Regions from separate parts of the Homo sapiens genome. Here region 2 is linked to region 1. A link means that fine-mapping ties the variant in region 1 to the expression of a gene that starts in the linked region. Tissue or cell type: blood mononuclear cells. Region 1 holds a variant in brackets; the other region holds the start of a gene. All regions are shown on one strand. Distances are from middle to middle.

Region 1 (2,683 bases):
TTTTTATTTTTATTTTAAATTCTGAATTACATTTGCATTGGGTGAAAGATAGTGGATTTACTTTTTTTTTTTTTTTTTTGAGACACAGTCTTGCTCTGTTGCACAGGCAGTGGTGCTGTTTCAGCTCCGCCTCCTGGGTTCAAGCAATTCTCGTGCTTCAGCCTCCCAAGTAGCTGGGATTACAGGCGCATGCTACCACACCTGGCTAATTTTTGCATTTTTAGTAGACACTGGGTTTCACCACATCAGCCAGGCTGGTCTCGAACTCCTGACCTCAAGACAAGGTCTTGCTATTGCCCAGGCTGGAGTGCAGTTGTACAACTGCACTGTACAACTCTAGCTCACTGAAGCTTCAAGCTCCTGGGCTTAAGCAATCCTTCTGCCTCAGCCTCCAGACTAGCTAGGACTACAGGCATGCACCATCATGCCTGGCTAATTTTTTTTTTTTTTGGTAGAGATGTGATCTCACTTTGTTGCCTAGGCTGGTCTTGAACTCCTAGCTTCAAGCAATCCTCCTGCCACAGCCTCCCAAACTGCTGGGATTATAGGTATGAACTACCACACCTGGCCTACACCACAAGTCTTGCTTTGCTTTTGGCTTCTGTGGAATTTTTATTATTTTCCTGCTGGTTCTGTGATACATTAAAATACATATTTAATATTTTATCCAGCATTTTTTGCGATTTCGTAGCTGGAGGGTTCAGAGATCTTGTTTATCAAGTATCTGGAAATGGAAGTTGACTTGTGCTTTATGTGTATTTGTAATTTGATTGTTATTATGAGGCAGGCTTATTGGCAAGATGATAACCAGAAGTTTGCTTATTTTTGGAATTCTGTGCCTAGTCTATAGTCGGTGCTTAAAAGTATTTGTTGAATGAACACTGATTCTAGCAGGAATCAGATGTATACCATGTACTGAAAACTCCATAAATAAAAGATGCTATAAAACTTCTGAATGATAAGCCAGCTACCTACGTGGCCTTGGTTTCCCTAAAAGGATTGACTATAGTGGCCATATCTGGGTCATGAAAGGGCCTTTTCTCTCTTTTCCTTTTCTGTCATTCAGCTAATCCTCCTGACTTCTGATTGTCCCACTTTATTATTTCTCTATGATTGAGCAGGTCAACTGCCCTCTTAAAACTCTCGACAGCCTGTTCGTTTTAGCAGTGACTGCCTTCTCCTGGAATCCTGGCAATTAGAAGCACTCTTGGGAGGC[C/T]GCGCGTGGTGGCTCACACCTGTAATCCCAGCACTTTGGGAGGCCGAGGTGGGCGGATTGCCCAAGGTCAGGAGTTTGAGACCAGTCTGGCCAACCTGGTGACACCCCGTCTCTACTAAAAATACAAAAAAATTAGCCAGGCGTGGTGGCATGCACCTGTAATCCCAGCTACTTGGGAGGTTGAGGCAGGGGAATTGCTTGAACCAGGGAGGTGGAGGTTGCAGTGAGCCAAGATCGCACCACTGCACTCCAGCCTGGGCAACAGAGTGAGACTCTGTCTCAAAGAAAAAAAAGAAAAAGAAACACTCTTGGCAGTTGTATTCTTTATTCTTCCATCTACTGTCTGTCTCCCCTTTAAGAGTAATGATATTGGACACTTGTTAAGCACCTCCCCATGCCAAGCACCATGCTGAATGCTTTATTCACACAATAAAGGTGAATAAATGCATGGAGAAGTCACTCAGGGCTGGGCGTGGTGGCTCACACCTGTAATTCCAACAATTTGGGAGGCCAAGGCGAAAGGATCGCTAGAGGCCAGGAGTTCGAGACCAGCCTGGGCAACATAGCAAGATCCCCATCTCTAAATAAATAAAATATAAAAAGAGAAGTCAGGGTTACATGGCTAATAAGGGGTAGAAAAGGGATTCAGGGCCCAAACTCCTAACCATTTCTTTTTTATCCACCTCTGTAATGTCCCTTCCAAATGGTTGCTTAGCTGCTATTGTATTCCATCACTTGGCTGCCCATTTATTTTAGATAGATCTAGTTATTAGGAAATTCATGTTGAACCAAAACCTATTACCAGGAACAAATGAGCCTTAGATTTGCTTGAAATACCCCACCAACATGGTTGCTTTCTTCTAGGCATGTTACAATTTACTCATGTCCCAGTGGTGTAAAGGTGGCACTTTGAACTGGGCAGAATATTCTGTTCATGGTCATACCAGCAATGCTGGACTGTTACTTCCTACACATCACAGAATTAGCTCTTCTTGTAGCTATAACACACTTCTAACTCACATAGAGCAAATAGATCAGTTTTTTTAACACTTGCAACTGCTATTAACATTCATCTTTTTCATATTTTTACAGTTGGCTTTGGCTTTTTGCAGTCACATACTCTGCCACTGAGCTATACCCGCTGTCTTTGGCTTTTTGAACCAGAGGGTAAAATGATTTGTCATTCATGACTGTCCTGTAACTGACATTACACATTGCCGGGTTTTATAAGGAAGAACAAAGGAAGACCTCTTTTTTTTCTTTTTATTATTATTATTTCTTTTGAGACAGGGTCTTGCTCTGTTGCCCAGGCTGGAGTGCAGTGGCGTGATCAGGGCTTAACGGCAGCCTCACCCTCAAGGCCCTCCTGGGCTCAAGTGATCCTCCTACCTCAGCCTCCCAAGTAGCTGGGACCACAGGAGTGAACCACCACACCTGACTAATTTTTGCATTTTTTGTAGATAAGGG
Region 2 (2,683 bases), 32 kb before region 1:
CGTGCCAATGCACTCCAGCCTGGCGACAGAGCAAGACTCCATTTCAAAAAAAAAAAAAAAAATTTATACACAAAATGCTACAGGAATAACGCATGGGTCCTATTGGGAAGAAAAAGTTCTCTAGAAGTCAGGCTTAAGCAGAACTGCAGCTCCGGGACGGATTAAGTCAGGTAAAGGTAACACTCTGTGCAGAGACATGCAGACAAAACCGAGTGTTGAGTAAGTAACTCGCCTGTAAGTGTTATGCTGCCTGAAGCTTCTCGGAGCGTCTGAGCAGCAAGGTGAACAACCCTCAGAAACCGGTCGCGCTGCCAGTATTATCGCTAACCAGTGGCAGCGAGCCCCTTTGTTTCTCGGCAGTTGTAATTGTAGTCTGGTTTGTAGGTGGAGCTGTGCGCAGGCGCACCTAGAACCAGGTGACCTTGCACATGCGCTGTATGTAACACTGAAGCCAAAAGCGAAATGATTGAGGGCAATTTTTCTTTTCTGCTTCCGAAATGTCCCTTTCGCGAATCCAGAGACCCTGACCGTCCCCATTTCTGGCTAGGGATCTTATAATTCTTAAAATAATACCCCCTTTCCTTCAGGGCCTCTCTAGTAAGTCGGCTGCCAATACCCAACATGGCGGGAGGCCCTGCGCCGGCTCAGTCTGCCTATAGGTGCAGGACTTGGAGGGGCGGGCCCCTCCCAAAGGGCGGGAGTTTGGGGGGGCGGGGCCTGGCCCTCTGCCTCGGGGTGGGCTCCGCCCCCGTCCCCCGCAGGGCCTTAGCAGCGGCTGCCGCAGCTCAATCGCGGAGCAACTAGCCGGGCGTCTGCGGGAGCCGAGCGTGGTGAGGTGGGGCCTCAGGGGCAGGTGGGAGGTGCTCGGGTTAACCGTCCGAGGCCCGGAGACCCGCCCGTCTAGGGCGCCTGAGGGAATCCCGTTCGGGCAGCGGCCTCTTGTTACCCGGGAGGAACCCGAGGCCCAGAGAGGGGCTGGGACGCGTCGTTAGGGCCCGGGGCCCGCTTGCCTCAGCTTCTTGCTGCCGCCAGCACGCTAAGCTCCAGTCGGCGCCGAAGGAGAGCTTCCCGACCCTCGTGTCCAGTAGCCGCAATCCCAGGCTGGGAGGGTGAGGCGCCGCGCTCTGCCGCCCCCCCGCCCCTCGCTCCCTGTGTCCTGGCGGATTTGCACGTAATCTATCCGAAAGCCCAGTCCCACCCGCCACCCGACTCTGGAGCTCCCATTCTTCAGGACCCTGCTGAAGTATCGCTTCTCAGCCGCCTTCTCCAGGCGCAGCTGCATTCGCTTCTCGGTTTTTGCACTCGCTGTGCACCGAGTTACTTTCCCGGCCCCTCGTTGACACCGTAAGCTCGTTCGTTAGATGTTATGCCTTGCCTTTTTCATCTCTAGATCCCAGGGCCTAGCACGTGATGATAATAGTCATGGCTTACTGTACGGAATGATCACAAATTGTCAGGTGCTACTGAATGCATTACACATAAGGGCCCATTTATTTATTTATTTAGAGACGGAGTTTCGCGCTTGTTGCCCAGGCTGGAGTGCAATGGCGCGATCTCGGCTCACCTCAACCTCCGCCTCCCGGGTTCAAGCGATTCTCCTGCCTCAGCCTCCCAAGTAGCTGGGATTGCAGGCATGCGCCACCACACCCGGCTAATTTTATGTTTTTAGTAGAGACGGGGTTTCTCCATGTTGGTCAGGCTGATCTCGAACTCCCGACCTCAGGTGATCCGCCCGCTTCGGCCTCCCAAAGTGCTGGGATTACAGGCGTGAGCCACCGCGCTCAGCCAAAGGCCTATTTAATCTTCCCAACAATCCTATGGGGTGAGTTCTTTCTATAGCTTCACGTTTTACCCATGAAGAAACTGAGGTATTCATAGAAAAAGTAATTTGCCAGGAGTCCCACAACTAATAAGTGGATGGAGCTGGGAAACTGTCCCCAGGGCATTTGATGACTTGACTAGATTGCCTTTGGGTTTAATCAACGTCTGTTGAATTGATCTTTACTTTGGCCCTGGGAGTTATTGGAGGCTAGGCTTGTGATCAGTATTTTACCGCGAAGGCTTAGAAAGGAGAACTGGTCCCAGATTTATAGAGGTCACAACAAAACCAAGGCTACTGGTACGCCCTCTGTTCCTTTAGTTCTTCTATCTTTCTTTGCTCCTTTTCGATCAGAAAGCTGCAGACATAGGTGTCATTATCGCTCACTATTTAAGAAGTGCCCCTCACAGAGCTGTGAGTTCGTAGTCCATGCTTTAACTAATGTAATGTTCATGCTTTAACAGCTAATGTAATGGAGAGAGTGTAGAATTTGGAATCAGATTGGGGTTCAGTCATTGCTCTGCCACTGACCAAGCTATAAGTTATATGCCTCCCCCCACTTTTTTTTTTTTTTTTGAGACCTGGTCTCAGTCACCCAGGCTGGAGTGCAGTGGTGCGATCTGGGTTCACTGGAACATCCTGTCTCCCAGGTTCAGGCGATTCTCCCGCCTCAGCCTCCTGAGTAGCTGGGATTACAGGCGCCCGCCACCGTGCCTGGCTAATTTTTGTATTTCTAGGAGAGATGGGGTTTTGCCATGTTGGCCAAGCTGGTCTCGAACTCCTGGCCTCAAATGATCTGCCCAACTCAGCCTCCCAAAGTGCTGGGATTACAGTTGTGAGCCACCACACCCAGCCTGTTTTTTT

What was found. PIP is the estimated chance that this variant, and not a neighbour inherited with it, causes the effect.
Region 2: it holds the start of CEP250, and the variant in region 1 is fine-mapped to the expression of CEP250 in blood mononuclear cells (TOPMed, PIP 0.95).

The regions. Positions count from the first base shown.
Region 1 is chr20:35,485,973-35,488,655 of GRCh38, forward strand. All of the region lies in intron 20 of CEP250 (centrosomal protein 250), which reads left to right. The region is part of intron 1 of CEP250-AS1 (CEP250 antisense RNA 1); the gene reads right to left. Among named protein-coding and RNA genes, the nearest start is that of CEP250-AS1, 3.7 kb to the right of the region's middle. The variant C/T (reference allele first, on the strand shown) is at 1,217.
Region 2 is chr20:35,454,408-35,457,090 of GRCh38, forward strand. It overlaps CEP250 (centrosomal protein 250), which reads left to right and starts at 1,191. Exons shown (of 35, transcript NM_007186.6): 1 at 1,191-1,344. It also overlaps a transcript of GDF5 not described here. RefSeq lists enhancers at 126-175, 436-585 and a silencer at 606-985.